3 separate regions of the Homo sapiens genome follow, and regions 1 and 3 are each linked to region 2. A link means that fine-mapping ties the variant in region 2 to the expression of a gene that starts in the linked region. Tissue or cell type: whole blood. Region 2 holds a variant in brackets; each other region holds the start of a gene. All regions are shown on one strand. Distances are between the middles of the regions.

Region 1 (8,107 bases), 130 kb before region 2:
GATTAAAGACTTAAACATAAAACCTAAAACCATAAAAACCCTAAAAGAAAACCTAGGTAATACTATTCAGGACATAGGCATGGGCAAAGACTTCATGACTAAAACACCAAAAGCAATGGCAACAAAAGCCAAAATAGACAAATGGGATCTAGTTAAACTAAAGAGCTTCTGCACAGCAAAAGAAATGATCATCAGAGTGCACAGGTAACCTACAGAATGCGAGAACATTTTTGCAATCTATCCATCTGACAAAGGGCTAATATCCAGAATCTACAAAGAAGTTAAACAAATCTACAAGAAAAAAAAATCTGATCAAAAAGTGGGTGAAGGATATGAACAGACACCTCTCAAAAGAACACATTTATATGGCCAACAAACATGAAAAAAAGCTCATTATCACTGGTCATTAGAGAAATGTAAATCAAAACCACAATGAGATACCATCTTGTGCCAGTGAGAATGGTGATCATTAAAAAGTCAGGAAATGACAGATGCTGGAGAGGATGTGAAGAAATAGGAATGCTTTTAGCCTGTTGGTAGGAGTGTAAATTAGTTCAACCATTGTGGAAGACAGTGTGGCGATTCCTCAAGGATCTAGAACAAGAAACACCATTTGACTCAGCAATCCCATTACTGTATATACCCAAAGGATTACAAATCATTCTACTATAAAGACACATGTACACATATGTTTATTGTGACACTGTTCACAATAGCAAAGACTTGGAACCAACCCAAATGCCCATCAATGATAGGCTGGATAAAGAAAATGTGGCACATATATACTATGGAATACTATGCAGCCATAAAAAAGGATGAGTTCATGTCCTTTGCAGAGACATGGGTGAAGCTGGACACCATCATTCTCAGCAAACTAACACAAGAACAGAAAACCAAACAGTGCATGTTCTCACTCATAAGTGGGAGTTGAACAATGAGAACACATGGACACAGGGAGGGGAACATCACACACCAGGGCCTGTCGGAGGGTAGGGAGCTAGGGGAGGGAGGGGTAGCATTAGGAGAATTACATAATGTTGATGATAGTTTGATGGGTGCAGCAAACCACCATGGCACATATATACCTAAACCTGCACTTCCTGCACATGTATCCCAGAACTTAAAATATAATAATAATAATAATAAAGGGGTATTGAAATTCCCCAGTATTTTTGTTTTGCTATGTTTTCCTCATGTCCACTAATATTTGCTTTATATGTTTACACACCTTGATGTTGGTTGCATATTTATAATTGTTACAGTCTGATTAACTTATTTGCTTATTATTACTTAAAGACAATCTTAGTCTCTTGTAACAGTTTTTGACTTCTGGCCTACTTTATCTGACATAAATATAGTCACCCCTGCTTTCTTTTTTTACCGTTTGCATGAAAAAATTCTTTCTTTTCACTTTATTTTTGTCCTTAAGCTTGATCTAGTCTGCCATTGAAGCTCTCTATTGTATTTTTTCATTTCCTTCATTGAATAATCTAATGGCAAGACATCTGTTTAATTTTTCTTGATGTCTATTTCTTTGCTGAATTTCTAATTTATACCATGATTTTTTTTTCCTGATTTCTTTCAATAGTCTATCTATATTATCTTGAATCTTGCTGACTTTTTATTTTTTATTTATTTTTTATTTTTTTAATTATACTTTAAGTTTTATGGTACATGTGCACAACGTGCAGGTTTGTTACATATGTATACATGTGCCATGTTGGTGTGCTGCACCCAGTAACTCGTCATTTAACATTAGGTATATCTCCTAATGCTATCCCTCCCCCCTCCCCCCACCCCACAACAGGCCCCGGTGTGTGATGTTCCCCTTCCTGTGTCCACATGTTCTCATTGTTTGATTCCCACCTATGAGTGAGAACATGCAGTGTTTGGTTTTTTGTCCTTGCGATAGTTTACTGAGAATGATGATTTCTAATTTCATCCATGTCCCTACAAAGGACATGAACTCATCATTTTTTATGGCTTCATAGTATTCCATGGTGTATATGTGCCACATTTTCTTAATCCAGTCTATCATTGTTGGACATTTGGGTTGGTTCCAAGTCTTTGCTATTGTGAATAGTGTCGCAATAAACATACGTGTGCATGTGTCTTTATAGCAGCATGTTTTATAATCCTTTGGGTATGTGCCCAGGAATGGGATGGCTGGGTCAAATGGTATTTCTAGTTCAAATCTTGCTGACTTTTAAAAATGTTATATTATTATTATTATTATTATTATTATTATTATTATTTTGAGATGGAGTCTCACTCTGTCAACCAGGCTGGAGTGCAGTGGCACGATCTCGGCTCACTGCAACCTCCACCTCTCAGATTCAAGTGATTTTCCTGCCTCAGCCTTTTTGGGGAGAGTCATGTTTCTTTGCTTTTTCATGTTTCTTGTGTCCCTGTGTTGATATATGTGCATCTGGTAGAACATTTGCCTCTCCTAACTTATAAAGTAGCTTTTCTAAGAAAAAACTTTCACTTGTTGATAGGTCCTCGGGTGCTGAGTAGGGTGTATCGGCTCTGCTTCTGGCTGGCACAGTAGCGTAGTCTCTGTGAAGCTTCTCAGCTATAATCAATGTCAGTGACAAGTGGATGCCTCAGTGGCCCGTACTGCAGTAATTTGTGGGAGTGGTGGTAGCAAAGTAGATTACACTGAGCTCAGGCACCAAGAGAGCACAACTACTCCACCAGCTCAGGTACAGCTTCCCTCGGGTGGGATGCAGGGCTGGTTTGTGTGCTGAGGGAATAAGACCAGTGTTCTGGCTTGGGCATAGCTTTTCTGGAGGTGGGGCACCAGGCCGCTTTATGTGCCAAGGGAGCACAGCTGCTCCACCATCTCAGACATTGCTTTCCTGGGGCTGAGTCTGGGGCCCCCAGTTAGTGTGCACACAAGGGGGTATTGTTGCCATTCTATTGCGCATGCTTCTCTGGGGTCAAGGTGCTTGGCTCATGCTTGAGAGGGTACAACTGCTTCACCAGGCCAGGCTTGGCTTCCTTGCTGGGTTGGACTGTTTGGTCCTTGGGGGCCAGAGCAGCCTGTAGGTTCAGAAGCCTGGGTCATGACCGTTCCACTGGGCCTAGGCCTAGGCTTCGAATGGCCATGGGTGGGGCATAGCTGCCACTGGAATGGAGAGGATACTGTGCCTTCTCAGCAGCTTCATAAAAAGGTATTTTGGTCTATATATCCTTGGTAAATCTGTATTTCTGAGACAGCATGAGATCAATAATTTTCTATTCTACTCTCTTGCTTACAACATTCAACAACTCATTTCCTTTTTTTTTTTATCACAGAGTAATATTCCATTGTATAGATGTACCATAGTTTGTGTATACATTCTATGTATCATTATTGAATGATATCTGGTTGCAAACATTTTTGGCAATTATGAATAAAGCTGCTATAAACATTCATGTGCAATTTTTCATGTGGACATATGTTTTCAAGTCATTTAGGTGAATAAAAAGCAGTGCAGTTGCTGGATTAGGTGATAAAAGTATGTTTAATTTTGCAGGAAATTGCTGAACTGTCTTCTAGAACAACCGTACCGTCTTGCATTCCTGTCAGCAATCAGTGAGAATTCCTGTTGCTCCGCATCCTCACCAGCATTTGGTGTTGTCAGTGTTCTAGATTTTAGACTAAATGCAGTGTTTTCATTTTGTCCTATTCTAGATGCTAACTTTTATTGTGATTTAGTCTCGTGAGTTGTTTTAAATTGTTACATAAGAATTTCTTAGTGTATAGAGTTTCCTATGTTTTTGAATTACTTTTTAATTTTAATTGCATTATGATTAGAGTATGTTTATTTTGATGGTTATCTGTGGAAATTTTCATTCTGATCTAGTTAAGTGGTGACTTTGTGAGTTTCCGTGTGCTTAAAAAGACTGCAAATCTCTCATTGTGGCTGCCCTGGAACTTAGTTTATATAATAAATAAGTTTCCTCATGTCTGAACCTGCCCAGGCACCTTTCCCAATGTATCAGATGTTTAACACTAAGGATCTGTTTTGTTCTGGAAAGTTATTTTTATCTGGCCTCATGATTACAGTCCTGGCCCTGAACTTCAGAGAATGGAGGGGTAAGCAAAAGGACCTCAGACTGTGCCAGGAAATGTCAAGTCACCTGCTGTAGGCTACTACTAATGGAGCATGGCCTATTTACTTGGACACCAAACTATCCAGTGCTAACATGAGGTTTTTCAGGACTAGATCCCATGGCCATACAGCCCTGCCTGCCAGATTGGACGTGAAAAGTATTTCCGCATCTGACATTCCTGTTTCACCCACACAGGGCATCGTTTTGCCCAGGACAAAGTTCACCTCCAATCTTATCCACACTATTTCTATCTTTGCTTCCTTGATAAGATATAGACATTTATGCAGTGGTTCAAAGTCTAGAGTCCCTACACTTCTGGTACATGACAGCTGTGTCTCGATGGAGTAGACTCTCAGAACAGCGCAGTTTGCCCTCCGCTCACGCAGAGCCTCTCCGTGGCTTCCGCACCTTGAGCATTAGGCCAGTTCTCCTCTTCTCTCTAATCCATCCGTCACCTCTCCTGTCATCCGTTTCCATGCCGTGAGGTCCATTCACAGAACACATCCATGGCTCTCATGCTCAGTTTGGTTCTGAGTCTCCTCAAGCTGGGATCAGGTAAGACTCATCTTTGTTTCCTCCTTACTAACTAACAGTTTGAGTTCTTTAGCTACAATGGTTGCAGCATAATGGAATGAAGGCATCTTTGTCGTTTCCATTCCTTTGGCTTCTCCTAGCCTCAGCCTGGGGAAGGATCAGGCGCTGTGGAAACAATTATAGTAGCCCCCAAATAATGGAAACACGGGTGTTGAAGACGCACCGTGATCGTTGACGGGGACACACCTAACGTGTTAAGGTGAATAAATTCAGTGTTTCTCCCAGATGGGCTGAGTGGTGTAGGCAGGGTTATTGGAGCACCAAGGTTGCTGACATGGATGTCCATCTGGGAAGAGACACAGTTAGGATTTTTGGGGAAAAGACAATGTATCCAGCTAAAGACATGCTGAGTTAGAAATGTCTGTGGTATGAGACACGAGGGTGGAGGAAGGTGTACAGGTCTTGAGGTGAGAAATTAGCTGAAACCTGGCATATTCTGGGAAGAAATCCACTCTTCTTTCTCCTTCCAGTTACTGTTAACACAGAACCTAGTATATAGGATGTTGAGTGACTGAATACAATTCACAGAGGAAGCTTGAGGTTGGGGTAGAATGCTGGTGGCTAGATGGTCAGTACCCAGCCACAGAAGATTCGATTGACTGTGTTCACTTTCTGTCTGTGAAGGTTCATCCTGCCACCTGTCCACCTATATCTTTTTTGCTAAATGAAGCTAAGAAAACAGAAATAAGGGCAATCAAAACATAGAGCATGTTTCCTTAAAACAAAAACCCATATGTGTTACTAACAGGAGACGCTCTCGTTTCAGTTTGTTTTCATTTATTTTCTGACGAGCTTCTTTGTTTCCCTTCTGTTTCCGGGTGAGGCAGCAGGACATCCTGGAAATGATCTTGGAGACAGAAACATTTTATTTTTAAAAACTCTTATTTCATTTTCTTGTGAGCTTTATTGTTCACAGCTTCCTTAGGTGTTGGTTTGCTTATGATGACATGGAGATACGATCACATTCCTGCTGGGGCTGTGGTGAGGACTGCATGAGCTTGTGCATGTAGAGTGCACACAGCTGCACGGGTGCATGGCATGTTGCAGCAACAGTCTTGTTCCTTTCTTATTTTCAAGGGAAGGAAGTGGAAGGAGTGAAAGGAGATGTTATAGGCAAGAGAGGTGACAGCAGCAAGGGCTGGCCGGAGAAATGGAGGTACCCTGAAAAATGTTTCCTTGCCTCAAGAGCCCCACACAGCCCTGAAGGCAGCATCCATAGCAGCCCAGCTGGCATACGCTGGGTCCCCAAACCTGACCTAAGACAAGGGCCTTCCTGCCAGTGATTCGTTGAGCAGGTGATTCTGGGAAACAAAGTGAGGGAGTGGAGAGAGTGAAGCCAGTAGGGGGAAAGCCATAGAGGGTGCGCTAATGAGCGTTGCTGCGGTGGCAACTGGGACCCAGTCCCACTGGGACCTTTGGAGGAACTTTATAGATGGTGGCTCAGAGTCATTCCAACATCTACTGTCTCCTTTCCCCACTGGGTGAGATGTGCCGCCCAGGACTGCTAAAATCGCAAACCTTCTGAGCTGCCTTGTGCCAGGGCTAAGTAGGTTCCAAGGGTGGCAGGAAGCCCTCAGCAGAGAGGCAGAGGCCAGGCTCCAGGGACGGAGCTGTCAGCAGGCAGGGAAATGCCCATCCCACTGCAGGGGGACTCAGGGTTGGGTGGTGAGGAGCAGGGCCTCAACATCTGCTACACCAGGTCAGAAGCTGGTCAGACACCAGGCTGCAAAGTCATGCCTCATTTAATAATACTCTTAAAGATGCATGAGTGAAATACATTTCAGCAAGATTTATAAAATGTAATTAAACTAAAAAATTAGTGCTAAAATGAAAAAGTATCCACTGATCTAGAAATTCACACATGTAATTCACCTTCCCTCTGATGCACATGCAGACAGCACACACAGGTATATCCATATACCATAAATGGATACATGTGAATGAATCAAGAGACACTGCCAGTCAAAGGGGGTGGGTACTTAGAAGGTGAAGGGAGTGGGCCTCCATAGTCTGTGGTCTCTAAGAAGCAGTGTAATCCTTACAGGGTAGTAAGAGTGATTTACACCAGGAAAATTACTCAAATGATTGTTAAACAGATGAGCAAGTAAGAAAGGAAATGGGGCTCACCGTTCACATGCATAACTGTGGAGCCTGTTCTGTGTGACTGGCTCTGTGCTGATCAAGTGGGTACTATGCTGAGCAAGAAAATCAGGCCCTGTCCCCAGAGAGCCAAGAGCTGTGCAGGGGAGGCTCACAGAAAACATGTAATTGTCACACTTGAAGCAAGACAATGAAGAAAGTTTCAAAAGCGAGGTGAGGACATACATGTACCAAGAATTTTTTTTAAAAAAAATGAAGGCAAGACATGTTGACAAAGCACTAGGCGAACCACCTTTCAGTGCTAAAATAAAGTGGAAAAAATTACTACACAAGCGTAAAAGGCACATGCTATGGAAAATATAAGTCACACGTGAACGTGCTAAAGAACAAATTTACAGAAAACAGACTGCAAAATCTTGTTTCAGTGTCACAGCATGTCTTTCAGAACTTGGCAGAACAAGCAGATTTTCAAAAAAAACTAAGGAAGTACAAATAATTGTGTGCGCCATGGGCAGAAATGTAACATTCCTCTATAGTAGCCATAAAATATTGATATAATATTGTGCTTGAAGGAAACCTTAACGAATTGCCGCAAACTGGAGACTTTATGGCCCATACTCTTCTCTGGGCCATTAGAAAGACGTCAACTTTGGTTTTCAGCAAGGACGATGGAAATGGGGATGTTTGGGTTTTTTTTTTAATTGAAGCAAATGGGCAGATGGGAGAGAATGTGGCAATAGAACCTCCTGGAATCAAAGGGTCTACATTCAGAAAGAGACTTTTTCCTCTGGATAACATGGTTTTCTCATCTTAAAAATAAAAACATTAATAATACACATTTCTGCAGGTGCTCCTCAAGATCGAATGAAGTAACTGATGTGGACATGGTTTGTCAAATGTAAGGAGATACACAAATGCAAGTCACTGGCTTTAGAAATAGGATTGTGATGAATGTTTCCCCCTGATGCACATCTCCAGCCCAGCCCAATGGAGCCCTGAGTAGGTCACACTATAAAGGGTTTTTTTTTTTGTTTTTGCTTTTATACTTTAAGTTTTAGGGTACATGTGCACATTGTGCAGGTTAGTTACATATGTATACATGTGCCATGCTGGTGCGCTGCACCCACTAACTCGTCATCTAGCATTAGGTATATCTCCCGATGCTATCCCTCCCCCCTCCCCCTACCCCACAACGTCCCCAGAGTGTGATATTCCCCTTCCTGTGTCCATGTGATCTCATTGTTCAATTCCCACCTATGAGTGAGAATATGCGGTGTTTGGTTTTTTGTTCTTGCGATAGTTTACTGAGAAT
Region 2 (8,107 bases):
TGCCCAACACAGGAGACCACAGAGCAGTTTGAACCAACCCCAGAGCTCACCCCAAAGCTGGAGAGCAAGCCCATATCATGCATGTTTACTGAGCACAGCCTCTAGTCTAGTTCATCCTGAGCAGCATTCTGCCTTGCCTTTGGGTCCATCCTGCAGTCCTGTCCAACTGCAGAACTCAAATAGCAAAACTGCTTGGCCAGGGAATATATGCTGTGACCTGGCCTCATTAGTGGTAACTGCAGTGCCCAGTCAGCAGTTCCACGTGATCGCAGAGCCTAGCCAGTGGTCTCGCTGGACAGTAGAGCCCAGCCAGGAGCCCCACTTGACCTCAGATAAAAGGCATCAGCCCACCCAACTAGAGAACTCAACAGCAAGCTCTACCTGCCTGTGGTCACTACCAGCTGGCCCATCCAGAATCACAGGCTAAACTAAACAGTGAAGGTTAATTCCTGTGAATGAATACCTGTAAAGGCTGGAAGAGGTGGCAGTCTCCTCAAATGTACAGATGCCAACACGGGGACATAAGGATTAGAAAGAGGGAAGCATGAACTATAAAGGAATGTAGATTTATGTAATGACTGGCAAAAAAAATCAGGACAATTCTCTTAAAGAATTTCAATGAACTATAAGAATATACAGATAAAAAATTAAATAAAATTTGGAAAAAATAGATCAATAAACCAAGAAATAGAAACAATTTTTAGAAACCAAATATAAATCCTAGAGATTAAGAATACAATGACTGAACCAAAAAAAGTCAACAGAAAACTTCAACAGCAGACTCAATCAGGGCAAATAAAGAACTGATGAGCTCAAAGACAGAAATTTTAAAAATTATCCAGTCAGAAGAGCAAAAAGAAAAAGAATAAAAATGAAGAAAGACTACATGAGTTATAGAATACCATCAAGAAAACTAATTTTTGCATAATAGGAGTTGCAGAAGAAGAGAAATAAAAAAGATGAGAAAAAATGTTACGAGAAATAATGGCTAAAAACATCCCAAATCTGGGAAGAGATACCAACATTCAGGTACAGGAAGCTCAGGGGTCCCCAATTAAATTTAAACTGAAGAAGAGTTCACCAAGACACATAATAGTCAAACTACCAAAAAGCAAAGGAAAATTCAAAGCAAAGAGATTAGAAACATACCACATACAAGGAAATATCAATACAGCCATCAGCAGATCTCTCAGCAGAAATACTGCTGAGGAGAGAGTGGGATGATACATTCAAAATGAAGAAAAAATAACCAAGAATACTTTACCCAGCAAAGTTGTCCTTTAGAAATGAGGGAGTGGCCTTTCGTTTCAGTGTAAAGCACTCTCTTTCCTGTAAGTCAGGCATAGTAGTGATAAATTCTCTTAGCTTTTGTTTGTCTGGGAAATATTTTATTTCTCCCTCATTTCTAAAGGACAACTTTGCTGGGTAAACTAGTCTTGGTTATTTTTCTTCACTTTGAGTGTATCATCACACTCTCTCCTAAGGCACAGTAGTGATGAATTCTCTTAGCTTTTGTTTGTCTGGGAAAGATTTTATTTCTCTCTCATTTCTAAAGGACAACTTTTCTGGGTAAAGTATTCTTGGTTATTTTTTCTTCACTTTGAATGTATCATCCCACTCTCTCCTCAGTAGTGTTTGTGCTGAGAGATCTTTCCCAGACAAACAAAAGCTAAGAGAATTCATCACTACTATGCCTGACTTACAGGAAAGAGAGTGCTTTACACTGAAATGAAAGGCCACTGATGAATACCATAAAACACATGAAAGCACAAAACAATGGTACTGGTAACCGAGTCATATTCAGAAAACTCTAGGACTAGAAAGGTGGTGTTAAAGCAATTTTATCTCTAGTATGACGGTTAAGAGACAAAACTATTAAAAAATAAATTGTTAAGGAATACAAATTACAAGATTACATAAATTCTGATATCAAAAGATAAAATGTGTGTGTGTAGGGGACAAAAATGTACAACTGTTAGATATTTTAGTTAAACCTCATGATAACCACAAAGCAAAAACACATAGTAGATGCACAAAACAAAACATAAATAGGATTCAGAGTATACCACTACAAAAGAACTATAAAACTACAAAGGGAGACTAAAAAAGAAAGAAAGAAAAAAAGGATCTACAAAACAAAAATTACAAAACGGTAATAGTAAATACTTAACAGTATTTACTTTGAATGAAAATGAATTAAATTCTCCATTCAAAAAAAGTAATGGCTGAATGAATTTTTTTAAAAAGGCCCAACTATATACTGTGCTATAGTTTAAATGTCCCTGCCAAAATTCATGTTGAAACTTAATTGCCATTGTAACAGTGTTAAGTGATGGGACTTTTAAGGGGTGATTAAGTCATAAGGACTCTCTGGTCTCATGAATAGATTAATGCAGCTATTTTTAAAAATTTATAATTGCCTTGTCTTATGGTTCTGAGATTAATGCTATTATCACAGGAGTGGATCAGTAATCACAGCAGTGAGTTCCTGATAAAAAGGATGAGTTCAAAAGATGGTTTGCTAGAGGACCCTAATGCCTGTACTCCCCACACCAAAAAAAAAAAAAAAAAACAGGACCCAAATGATGAATAAATAACTACACTTGCACTGTAGTGTATAAGGGAGAATGCTGGCGTACAGCAGGAAAAGACAGGAAACATGATGTAACTAGACCGTTTGGAAGGGCTGCATAGAAGCAAAATGAGGACACTCAGCCTCTGCTACACTGTCTTCCCAGCCAGGATTAACTCAAAAAAAAAGGCACTTCCCCCAGCAGGAAAAAGGTAACCAGGAGGCCCCCAGGAATCCCCACTGATATCACAGATACCTGCAATCTTTGCTGCTAGAGAATCCTGCAGCGCCCACAGGCCCTGAGCCCCGTTGGGGGAGCTGCCTGGCATCCCTGAACTGCACTACCCCAGAGAAGGAGCCCACATTGTAGCCCACTCCCTAACACATTACCAAAGCTGCAGCTGTATGGCACCATCTTGATACTGGATCCACAGCCACAGTGCATCCTGCTGCAGGAGCCTGTAACCACTGCACCTTTTCATCTCTGAGGGTATGCAGCCATTACATCATGTTTACACATAGTACTGCACCATTCCCCAGCCAAGCTTCTACAGGTTACTACTTCCTGGGAATAAGCTACCAAGGAGGTGCCCCACCTTCTGCATCCTAATGACTGCAGAGCCCCAACTTCAGCTCTTCAGAACCTAGGCCCAGCACCCCAGCACCAGAATCCACATGACACTCTGCCTGTAAAAGTAGAGACAATCCTGCTCAGCAAAGAAGCTGAGTCTTTACCAGCTGTGTACACATTCAGCACACTCAGTAGCCAGGTGAGCTGGTGAATCTGAGCCAGGAGGCCCTCATGTATCCTGGTGCAATCACCAGTCTGGTGCACCACTTCTAGGGGGACCTCATCCCCAAACTGGCAAACTAGCTCCTGCATGCCACCTGCATGTTCACCAACTGTGCACATCACTTCCAGGGGGACCCCACCCCAAGCCAGCAAATGGCATATGGATCCCCATATGCCACCACCATGCTCACCAGCCAAACATGCCACTTCCACGGGAGCCTGGCCCTGAGCCAGTAAATTGGCCCCCATGCACTGCAGGCATACTCATCAGGCCAGTGTGCTGCTCCCAGGGAAGCCCTGCTATGAGCCAGCAGACCTGTCAATGCATGCAGCCAGCATGTTCACCAGCCAGGCACTCCACCCAGGGGAGCCTGGCTATGAGCTGATGGACCTGTCAATGCCTGCAGCCATGTGCTCATCAGTCAAGTGAACCACTCCCAAGAAAGCCCCACCCCAAGCCAGCAGATCAGCCCCTGTGCACCACTAGCACACTCACCAGCCAGGGTGTTGCATCCCTGGTGGTCCCAATCATAGGCAGGTTGGCCCCTGCACTTACTGGTGAGGCACACAACTCCCAGGCAATCCCCATTCAGATCTGGCAGACCAGCTGCGTAAACTTCTGCAGCCTAGACCACTACAGCTGAAAAACTGCACAGAGACTACTGCGCCCATTCAAAACCAAAGCCAATGAACCCTACCCAAATGACACTCTAAGACATATCTGCAGGCAAAACTTTCCCTGCAAAAGCCACTCCATAATATCAGAGAAGGCAACCATTGCACCAGATCCACAGGTGTTAATGCAGGGACACAGGAAACATGAAAAAGGAAACATGAAGTCAATGAAAGAGGACAATAATTCTCTAGTAACTGACCCCGAAGAAATGGAAAGTTATGAATTGCCTGAAAAGGAATTCAAAATAATGATCTTAAGAAATGCAGTGAGAAGCAAGAGAATACAGATAGACAATAAAATGAAAAAATAAGCTATGACCTGAATAGAAAATTCAACAGAGATAGAAATCATAAAGAACCAAATAGAAATCTTGGAACTGAAGAATTCGATGACAAAAAAAAAAAATGTAATTGGGAGCTTCACAACAGGCTATATCAAACAGAAGGAAGAATTTCTAAACTCAAAGACAGGTCTTTTTTTTTTTTTTAATCATACTTTAAGTTTTAGGGTACATGTGCACAACGTGCAGGTTTGTTACATATGTATACATGTGCCATGTTGGTGTGCTGCACCCATTGAAGTAACCTAGTCAGAGGAATGAAAAAGGAAAAAAAATGAAAAAGAACAAAGAAAGCCTACAGGACTTAAATGACTATTAAGCAAAGAAACTTTTGCATTATGAGAGTTCTAGAGGAAGAAGAGATGGTGAAAGGCACAGAAAGCTTATTTAACAAAATAATAGATGAAATCTGCCCAAGCCTTGGAAGAGATATGAACGACCAGACCCATAAATCTTAAAGGACCCTTTATAGATTCAATCCAAATGGATCTTTGAGGTATATTATATTCAAACTGTCAGAAATCAACAACAAAGACAGAGTTGTAAAATCAGCAAGAGAAAAGTAACAAATTACATATAAGGCAA[G/C]CTACAATAGACTGTCAGCGCATTTCTTAGCAGAAATCTTGCAGAATAGGAGGGAAAGGGATGATTTATTCCAAGTGCTAAAAGAAAAATGTTAGCCAAGAATAATAGACCCAGCAGAGATATACCTCAGAAATAAAGTATTTCCCAGACAAGCAAAAGCAGAGAGAATTCATCACCACAAGACTGGCATTACAAGAAACGTTTAAGAAAGTGCTTCATCAGCCGGGCACGGTGGCTCACTCCTGTAATCCCAGCACTTTAGGAGGCCAAGGCGGGAGGATCACGAAGTCAGGAGATCGAGACCATCCTGGCTAATACGGTGAAACCCCATCTCTACTAAAAATACAAAAAATTAGCCGGGAGTGGTGGCGGGTGCCTGTAGTTCCAGCTACTTGGGAGGCTGAGGCAGGAGAAGGGTGTGAACCCGGGAGGCAGAGTTTGCAGTGAGCAGAGATCACGCCACTGCACTCCAGCCTGGGCAACAGAGCAAGACTCCATCTCAAAAAATAAATAAATAAATAAAGTGCTTCATCTGGAAGTGAAAGGACAATAACTACTAACATGAAAACATATGAAGGTATAATCCTCACTGGTAGACATAAATTAATAATCAAATTCAGAATACTATATTACTGAAATGGAGATCTTTCAGATCTCCAGTATAAAACATCAAAACGATCAGTGATAACTATAAATTGTTAAGGAACACACAGTATAGAAAGATCTAAATTGAAGCCACAAGATTATCAATTGTGAGAGAGGAAAAGTCTAGAGTATTTGTGACAAAAGTTAAGTTGGTATCAGTTTAAAAGTCTATTAAAACTGGAAGATTTTTATGTAAGTCCCAGAGTAACCACAAAGAAAAAATTACAGCAGATACACAAATGAAAAGTAAAAGGAATCAAAGCTTATCACTACAGAAAACCAACAAATCGCAAATGGAACTAATAAAAAGAAACAAAGGATCTATAAAACAATCAGAAATTAACAAAATGGCTGGGGCAAGTTCTTACCTATCAATAATAACCTTGAATATAAATGGATTAAATGCTTCAATTAAAAGATATAGAGTGGGCCGGGCGCGGTGGCTCACGCCTATAATCCCAGCACTTTGGGAGGCTGAGGTGGGCGGATCACGAGGTCAGGAGATGGAGACCATCCTGGCTAACACGGTGAAACCCTGACTCTACTAAAAATACCAAAAATTAGCCGGGGTGGCAGGCACCTGTAGTCCCAGCTACTCGGGAGGCTGAGGCAGGAGAATGGCGTGAACCCGGGAGGCGGAGCTTGCAGTGAGCCGAGATCACGCCACTGCACTCCAGCCTGGGCGACAGAGCGAGACTCCGTCTCAAAAAAAAAAAAAAAAAAAAAAAAGATATAGAGTGGCTGAAAGGATTTTTTTTTAAAAAAGATCCAACTATATGCTGCCCACAAAAAACTCACATCACCTGTAAGGACACATATAAATGAAAAATGAAGGAATGGAAAATAATATTCCACATAAGTGGGAAACAAGAATAGGAGTAGCTAAGTTCACGTAAGATAAAAAGAGACAAAGTCATTATATAATAATAGAGGTCAATTCAACAAGTATAACAATAGTAAATACATGTACACCCAACAGTGAAGCAAATAAGCAATCATTATTAAATTTAAAAAGAGATGGCAATAATACAGTACTACGATACAATAATAGTGAAACGGGGAAAACGCCCCTTGTCCCCAAAGCAGGGCTTGTGGCTCACTCCTTCAGTGCCCCGCTGCTCATACCTCTAAGGGAGCATATGAGACGGGCAGGCTGTGGGGCTCCGAACCCAGGCAGTGTCTAGAGGTGAACGCTTACAGCTCCGGAAGCCCCAGTGGACGTGTGTTAGAGGGTGTTCTTTTAGTTTTGCAGTCTATATAGGCGGCTTGTGTTAACCAGCTCAACTTGGAGTGGGAAGGTTTTCCCCTGGAGTCAGGCCACTCAGCGTCCTGGGCTCATTTCCAACTGCCCCAGCAAAACTCTGCATCACTGTGCTTCTGCTGGTCACTGGCCTTCCGCGCCAGTTTCTCCAGACGTCCACCCCACCTGTGTGTCTGCCTGCTGGGGTCTGGGAGGTTTATAGGCACAGGTTGGGGGCGTGGCAGGCCAGGGTGGTCTTGGGAAACGCAACATGTGGGCAGGAAACGCCTGTCCACACCTAGATCCTTAGGGGTGGAGCCCTAGTCACGCCCTCCTCTACCCAGCGCTTCCCTTCCCCCTTCCGTATCATTTAAAGGGACCATGCTCTTCCCTTCCCAGCACTTCCCTTCAGTCTCAATAGCGGGAGACTTCAGCATCACGCTCTTAGCAATGGCCAGATCATCAGACAGGATACAAACAAAGAAACATCAGATTTAAACCACACACTAGACTAAATGAACCTATCAGACATTTACAGAACGTGCCGCTCAAGGCCGGGCGCGGTGGTGCATGCCTATAATCCCAGCACTTTGGGAGGCTGAGGCAGGCGGATCATTAGAGCCCAGGAGTTAGAGACAAACCTGGCCAACATGGCGAAACCCCGTCTCTACTAAAAATACAAAAATCAGTTGGGCATGGTGGCGCACTGCTGTCATCCCAGTTACTTGAGTGGCTGAGGCACGAGAATCGCCTGAACTTGAAAGATGGAGGTTGCAGCGAGCCAAGATCGCACCACTGCACTCCACCATGGACGACAAAGCAAGATTCTGTCTCAAACAAACAGACAAAAAAATGACACTCAAAAGCTGCAGAATACACATCTGTCTCAATAGCACATGGAACATTCTCCTGAACAGATCATATGTTAGGCCACAAAACAAAGCTTTAACAAATTTAAGATCTAAATCATTTCAAGTATATTTTCTAACCACAATGGTATAAAACTAGAAGTCAACATCAGGAGGAAATTTGTAAACTTTGTAAATACATAGAAATTAAATAGCATGCTCCTCAACAACCAATGGATCAATTAAAAAATTAAAAAAAAATTTAAACAGGTAAAATTGAAAACACAACATACGAAAACCTTTGAGATGCAGTTCTAAGCAGTTCTAAGAGGGAAGTTTATAGCAACAAACACGTATATTAGCCATGTGTGGTGGCTCACGCCTATAATTGTAGCAGTTTGGGAGAGA
Region 3 (8,107 bases), 35 kb before region 2:
ACTACTTCAACAGTTGGAATTAGTTGCTCTTTTTACTTGATGAAGCAAAACTATACCTCTGAATATTTATGGATGCTTTTTACAAAATCAGGCTTGTGTTCTTAATCCGAATTAGTAAAGTTTTATGGAAGCTGAAATGTAATACAGTAGTCTCCCCTTATCTGCAAGAGATACAGTCCGAGACCCCTAGTAGATGCCTGAAACCTCAGATAGTACTAAACCCTGTATAGTCTATGTTTTTTCAATCTGACAACCAAGGCGGCTACTAAGCGACTAAGGGGCAGGTTGTATACAACCTGTGTGGATAAGCAGGACAAAGGGATGATTCACATCCCAGGCAGGACAGAGGAGGAGGATCATGAGATTTCATCACTACATGGCTTGTGATTTATTTTATTATTATTTTTTTTTTTTGAGAGGGAGTCTCGCTCTATCACCCAGCCTGGAGTAGTGGTGCGACCTTGGCTCACTGCAGCCTCTGCCTCCTGGGTTCAAGCAGTTCTTCTGCCTCAGCCTCCCAGGTAGCTGGGAATGCAGGCGCCCGCCAACATGCCCAGCTAATTTTTGTATTTTTAGTAGAGACAGGGTCTCACCATGTTGGCCAGGCTGGTCTCGAGCTCATGACCTTAGGTGATCCGCCCTCCTCGGCCTCCCAAGGTGCTGAGATTACAGGAATGAGCCACAGTGCACAACCAGCTTGTGATTTAAAACATGGTTTATTTCTGGAATTTTCCACATAATATGTTTGGACCAAGGTTGCCTCGGGTAACAAACTATGGAAAGTGAAATTGCAGATAAAGGGAGTTACTGCTGCTGTGCTCTAAAATTGGTGTTTGGGTGATCAGGAGTGGGTAGCCAATGGGAAGAGGTGATCAGGAGCAGGTAGCCAATGGGAAGAGGTGATCAGGAGCGGGTAGCCAATGGGAAGAGGTGATCAGGAGCGGGTAGCCAATGGGAAGAGCACTTCTGAGTGATCACCAAAGCAGTTTCTTTAGTGGTCTTTTCACATTCTCCAATGTTCAAGCATATTTTCCACTTTCCATTTTCTATTTCACCTCATTTTGCCTCATCATCTGCCATCCCTGCTTATTTCTTAAGCCTACTGATGGCACTCACTAAATTGTGTTTAGGGCTAATGAATCATTGTTCCTTAATATCCTTTTCAATATGCCACAATTTAGAATGCATTTAAAATTTTCTAAAACAATATCCTACTCTGAATATTAACTAATTTGAGCCACATTCCCATCTCTAACTCAGCACAAAGTGCCAGTCTTCCCCAATATCTCCTCTCAACTCCCCACCGCACCTTATAAAATTGGAATCAGAAATCTCACTCTGTCATTGCTCATCTTAGAATAAAAACACTGATTTTAATACTGTTTTACTAGTTTCAGCCTTCTAAGTACGTAGGCCTCTAGGTATTCTGCAGATCACTGGTGGTCTTGATAGCCATTCATATATGTTCGTATTATGTTATTTTTCAACTAAATCGCAATTGGAAAAAAACATCTTTAATATTATGCCCTTGGATCTGTTACTTCATTACTAATACTTGTGATGCAATAGGACACTTCACCTGTACTAAAAGGGCCAAGAGTAAATGTCTTGTTTTGTTGTTGTTGTTAAACATGTCTACAGAGTTGGCAGTTAATGCTGAATTTGTCAAATAGCTCTTCCAAAATTATACTTGTATTTAAAAAATAAATGGATCTACCTAATTTCTATTCATCTAATTTGCAGTTTTGTCTTATTAAAGTGGTATGTTTTTCAATGTATTTTTTTCTGAAGTTGATCTCTTTACATTTCAGCTATTACTGTAGGCAGAAAGAAATTGACTTGTAATCTTTGATTTTTTTGCATTTGTAATGGCTTTGTACTTAAGGTAGGATTACATGTTTACAGATTGTGGGGGAAAAAAAAAGAAAAGTGAAGGGAGAGAAAAGACAAGGCGAGTGGCCAGAGACCCTCAGGATCCAAGAGTTAACTCTGATTAACTCAGATGCTTTGTTCAGCCAATTTCAGACTTCTTTTTTCCTAATACAAGCACTTAAGGATAAGCCTTTCTGTAAGAACTGCCTTACATGCATCATAGTATTTTAAATGTAGTGTTTTCATTCTTCTTCTAGTCTAATTACCTTCAACTTCTATTATTAGTTCTCTTAGACCCATTAGTTATTTAAAATTGTGTTATTAACAATTTCTAAGTTCATGGGGTTTCCTCTTTTTAAATTGCTCTTTACCTTCGTTGTCCTTCGTGGTGCTCTCCGTGGAAACCTGCTTTCTGATCTAGTAAGTGCTTATTCTTTGTGCATGTCCCTAGACTTGAAATCACTGCATAATCCCTAACTGTGTGTGTCCTGGCTTAGTGCATCTAATGAATGACTGAATGAATGCATCTTTGCCTTTGCCTTACCCCCGGGCCTGAAACATCGTCTTGGTCCCCTTCTCAATACCTTGGATCCTTGGAGATCAAGGTCCTGGTTGTTCTGGCAAGTTCAACACAATCTGGCCTCATGATCAGAGTCCTGTCCCTGAACTCAAGACAAGGGAGGGATGGGCAGAATTACCTCATGCTGTGCCAGGAAATATGAGTCTCATGGGGCATGGCCTGTGTGCCTGGGCAAATTCACTGCCTCACTACCCTGTGCTGAGATGATCTCTTTTTTTTTTTTTTTTTTTTTTTTTTTCTGAGATAGAGCCTCACTCTGTCACCAGACTGGAGTGTAGTAGTGCAATCTGGGCTCACTGCAACCTCCCTCTTCCCGGTTCAAGCAATTCTCCTGCCTCAGCCGCCCAAGTAGGTGGGACTACAGGTGCGCACCACCATGCCTGGCTGATTTTTGTATTTTCAGTAGAGACGGGGTTTCATCATGTTGGCCAGGATGATCTCGATCTCTTGACCTCGTGATTCACCTGCCTTGGCTTCCCAAAGTGCTGGGATTACAGGCATGAGCCACTGCGCCCGTCCAATCTCTCTTTCAGGGACAGATGTTCACTCTCTCTTGCAGCTCTGCCTGCCAGACTAAGCCTGAAAATATCTCTGCATCTGGCATTCCTTTACCACCTATGTGGGGCACAACCCAGAACAAAGTCCCTCCAAGTGTACCCTACTCTCTTTCCATTATCATTTCTCTGGTCTGAGATAGATGTTTATGACCTGCCAATAAATGCAGTGACTCAAACTCCAGTGCCCATACTCCTCATTCATACAGCCATGTTTAGGGAGGCTCTAGGGAGAAATGCACAGTTTGACATCGTTCATGAAGAGCCTCTCCACGGCTCCTGCGCCTGAGACAGCTGGCCTGACCTCCAAATCATCCATCCACCCCTGCTGTCATCTGTTTTCATAGTGTGAGATCAACCCACAGGAATATCCATGGCTTTTGTGCTCATTTTGGTTCTCAGTTTCTACGAGCTGGTGTCAGGTAAGCCTTTCAGTTTGGACTGTTGTTTTTCTCCTTGTTGAATAATATTTTGAGTTCATTCATGACAATGATCTCAGCACAGTGAGATGCAGGAATCTTTGGTGCTTGCATTCTCCAGCTTCTCCTGGCCTCAGGCTGGAAACTACCAATGCCAGGAGCTGTGGGAAGCACAGGGCAGCAGGAATTGAGGAAGACTCCTTGGGCTGTTTCTCAAGGACTTGGGCACTATCACAGTAGCTCAGAATAATGGGAGCAGGCCCTGGGAGCAGGGAGGGAACACATTGAGAACGCCAAGGTAAACACATTGTTCTCCCCAGGTGGGCTGTGGGGCTTAGGCAGGGGAAGTCTCTAATAAAATCCCCAGGTTTTTGACTTGGGTGCCTGGGTGGAAGGTGGCACTGTTTAGGATGTTTGGAGAAAAAGACAATGTGTCCAGTTATGCACATGCTGAGTTAGAAACACCTGTAGTTATGGGGTAGAGCACCAGACCTTTAAGTGAGGAGTAAGTTGGAACCTGGCATAGTCTAGGCAGAAACCCACTCTTCTTTCTCCTTCTAGTAACCATCAAGACAAAGCCTGGTGTATAGGATATTCAGTAATCAAATAAATTTTGCAGGGAGAGATAGGGGCTGGAGTAGAACACTGGATTCTGGGTGGTCAGTGTTAAGCCACAAAAAGTTCATTTGACTGTGTTCACTTTCTGTCTGGAACAGTTCCATCCTGCTATTTGTCTACCTATGACTGTTTTGCTAAACAAAGCCAACAAAACAGAAATAAGGGGATCAAAATCCATGTGTGCTCAGAGGGCGTGGTGGCTCACACCTGTAATCCCAGCACTTTGGGAGGCTGAGGTGGGTGGATCACCTGAGGTCAGGAGTTTGAGACTAGCCTGGCCAACATGGTGAAACCCCATCTCTACTAAAAACACAAAAATTAGCCGGGCATGGTGGTGAGCGCCTGTAGTCCCAGCTACTCGGGAGGCTGAGGCACGAGAATCACTTAAACCCAGGAGGCGGAGGTTGCAGTGTGCCAAGATCGTGCCACTGCACTCCAACCTGGGTGACAGAGTGAGACTTTGTCTCAAAAAAACAAAAACAAAAAATCACAATCCACGTATGTTACTCACAAGACAGCCTCCGTTTAAGTACATTCTCACCCATTTTCTGACAAGCCTTTCTGTCTGCTTTCTGTTTCTGCATGAGGCAGCAGGGCATGCTGGAAATGACCTTAGAGGAAGTAACACTATTTTTAAAACTTTCCTTTTCTCTATGAGCTTGTGGCTAATAACTTCTATTAGCATCAATTTTTGCTTATGATGACATAGAGATAATAAGATCACATCTGTGACATTCCTGTGGCTGAAGGGCTGCTGTGTGGATTGCGTGAACTCGTGCATGTAGAGCGTCCAGCACGGAGCTCCGCTGGGGCACAGTATGTTGCGACAACAGACAGTGTCATTCCTTGCTTCTCCCCAGGGGAAGGAGTAAAGGGAGACGCTGTCGGCAAGACAAATGACAGCAGCAAGGCTGGCCGGAGAAACAGACATATACTAAAAACTGTTTGCCTGGCTTGAGAGTCTCACACAGCCTTGAAGGCAGCACTCACAGCAGCCCAGCTGACAGGCTGGGTCCCAAAAGCTGATCTAGAGCAAGGGCCTTTCTGCAGGTGGTTTGTTTAGCAGACTGTTCTCAGAAACAAAAGTGACAGGGTGCAGAGAGTGAAGCCAGCGGGAGGTAAGCCATAGAGGGTGCGCTAATGAGCAGGTTGCTGCGGTGGCAACTGGGACCCAGTCCCACTGGGTCCTTTGGAGGAACTGTATAGACGATGGCTCAGGATCTTCCCAACATCCACTGCTTCCTGTTCCCCACTGGGTGAGATGTGCCCCTCCGGGACTATTAAAATCGCAAACCTTCTTGGCCACCCTGTGCCTGGGCTGAGGAGGTTCCAAAGGTTGCAAGAAGCCATCAGCAGAGAGGCAGAGGCCAGGCTCCAGGGGCGGAGCTGTCAGCAGGCAGGCAAGTGCCCATCCCATTCCAGGGGGACTCAGGGTTGGGTGGTGAGGAGCAGGGCCTCAACATCTGCTACACCAGGTCAGCAGCTGGTCTGACACCAGGCTGCAAAGTCACGCCTCACTTAATAATGCTCTTAAAGATGCATGAGTGAAATACATTTCAGCAAGATTTATAAAATGTACTTAAACTTAGAAATAATTAGTGCTAAAATTAAAAATATCCACTTATCTGGAAATTCACACATGGGATCCACTTTGCCTCTGATGCACATGCAGATACCACACACAGATATATCCATATACCATAAATGGATACATGTGAATGAATCAAGAGACACTGCCAATCAAAGGGGGTGGGTACTTAGAAGGTGAAGGGAGTGGGCCTCCATCGTTTGTGGTCTCTCTAAGAAGAACTCTAATCATACAGAGTTGTAAGTGTGATTTGCACCAGAAAAATTACTTAGTTGACCACAAAACCAAGAAGCAAATGCAAAAAGAAAGTAGCGCTCACCATTCCTAGGCATAATCCCTGTCTGTGGAGCCCATTCTCCATGCTGGGCATGGGGAATCCTGTGCTGAGGGAAACACACACACTCTGTCCTCATGAAGCTAAAAGTCGTGCAGGGAAGGCTCGCAGAAAACAAACAGTTATGTCACTTGCAGCAAGATGAAGACAGTTTCAAGTGAAGATCAAGACAAAGCTGTACCAAGAAAATACAAACAAAACAAAACAGGTAAGCCATGTTGATAAAGCACTAGAGTGGGGGTGTCCAATCTTTTGCCTTCCCTGGGCCATATTGAAAGAAGAACTAACACTAACGATAACTAATGAATGAAAAAAAATCACAAAAAATCTTATAATGTTTTAAGAAAGTTTAAGAATTTGTGTTGGACCGTATTCAAAGCCGTCCTGAGTCTCATGCAGCCCACAGGCTGTGGCTTGGACAAACTTTTGCTAGACGAAGTACTATTCAAGCACGAAATAATAAAGTGGAAAAACATAAAATTATTACCTGGAGTAAAATGTAGGTGTCATGGAAAAGATATGTCACAACATCAGTGCACTAAAGGGCAAATCTCTGAAATAAAAACTACAAAATCTCCTCACTGTGTCACACCATGTCCTTCAGAATATGGCAGAAGTCTACTTAAAAAAAAGAAGCACAAATAAATGTGCTTCAGCGGAGAATATATATTCCTTTCTTGTATCCATAAAACATTTACAAGATGTAATCATCTATTTGAAGGAAATAAATTTTCCCAAATTCGATATTTTATGGCCACTTACTCCCCTCCTGGGTCATTAAAAAAGGTTTTTAGCATAGAAGATGCAAAGGGGGTGGTGTGAGTGTTCATTAAGCAGATGGGCAGAGAGGAGAGCACGTGGAGATAGATTCTCCTCCAGTCAGGGAGTCTGCATTTGGAAGGTGCCTCTCAGGCCCCTGAATAACTCATCCCCAGAGACAGGGTTTCCTCATGTTGAATGTGGGAATATTGATAGCACATACCTCACCTCATCTCACATGAGATGTGTGTGAGAACCGAGTGAAGTAACTGACATGGAAGCATTCTCGCAAGTGTAAGATGTGCAAATGCAAGTCATCAGGTTTAGAAAGAAGACTGATGGATCCCCCACCCCATACCCCACACTTCTCCACCCACCAGAGCCCTGAGAAGGACTCAAGTGGATTTTGCTCAGTTGTCTGTTATGTTTCCTCCTATAGGACAGTGGCAAGTCACTGGACCGGGCAAGTTTGTCCAGGCCTTGGTGGGGGAGGACGCCGTGTTCTCCTGCTCCCTCTTTCCTGAGACCAGTGCAGAGGCTATGGAAGTGCGGTTCTTCAGGAATCAGTTCCATGCTGTGGTCCACCTCTACAGAGATGGGGAAGACTGGGAATCTAAGCAGATGCCACAGTATCGAGGGAGAACTGAGTTTGTGAAGGACTCCATTGCAGGGGGGCGTGTCTCTCTAAGGCTAAAAAACATCACTCCCTCGGACATCGGCCTGTATGGGTGCTGGTTCAGTTCCCAGATTTACGATGAGGAGGCCACCTGGGAGCTGCGGGTGGCAGGTCAGTTGTTTATTTATGACTGAGTTGTCTTGTAAAGTCATGCTACCATTATCAGCTCTTAAAAGTATTTCAGATAATGAAATAAAACAGACTTTCCAGATTCTGACATGATGTAAAAAGGCTTCGGTGGGGATCACTGACCTGAGGTTTCTGGAGATGAGCCTGGCCCTGCCATCACACAGGTGGGATCATGATGCAGAAGACAGCCACCTGCACCTGCCACCACCTGACAGGATACAGAGGAAAGCCACTCCCAATGTTGGTGAAATGAGAGTGATAATGCCTGTCATATTTCAATTTCTTTTATTTTCTTCTTTTTTCTTGACTTCTTGTGTGTTACTAAACTTTTTTTAGGATTCCATCACAACTTATTGTTAGTCTTTTTTTAGTATAACATTTTGTAGTGTTTTCTTAGGTGCTGCTTTAGGTGTTATGATATTCATATATAATTTATCACAATCTACTATATCAACATTTTACCACTTTGAAGTGTGGAAACTTCATTTTCATTCAGAGCCCTTCAAACTCCACAATTTAAAAATAACATTGCCTTGAGTATTTCTTCTATATACATAAGCACTATATCAGATAGTGAC

Evidence for each region. PIP is the estimated chance that this variant, and not a neighbour inherited with it, causes the effect.
Region 1: BTNL8 starts here. The variant in region 2 is fine-mapped to the expression of BTNL8 in whole blood (TOPMed, PIP above 0.99).
Region 3: BTNL3 starts here. The variant in region 2 is fine-mapped to the expression of BTNL3 in whole blood (TOPMed, PIP above 0.99).

Annotation. Positions count from the first base shown.
Region 1 is chr5:180,894,704-180,902,810 of GRCh38, forward strand. BTNL8 (butyrophilin like 8) reads left to right here and starts at 4,456. Exons shown (of 8, transcript NM_001040462.3): 1 at 4,456-4,656. The coding sequence starts at 4,608.
Region 2 is chr5:181,021,112-181,029,218 of GRCh38, forward strand. No RefSeq gene overlaps it. Among named protein-coding and RNA genes, the nearest start is that of BTNL9, 15 kb to the right of the region's middle. The variant G/C (reference allele first, on the strand shown) is at 4,967.
Region 3 is chr5:180,985,650-180,993,756 of GRCh38, forward strand. BTNL3 (butyrophilin like 3) reads left to right here and starts at 3,197. Exons shown (of 8, transcript NM_197975.3): 1 at 3,197-3,428; 2 at 7,164-7,511. The coding sequence starts at 3,380. It also overlaps the pseudogene ARPP19P1.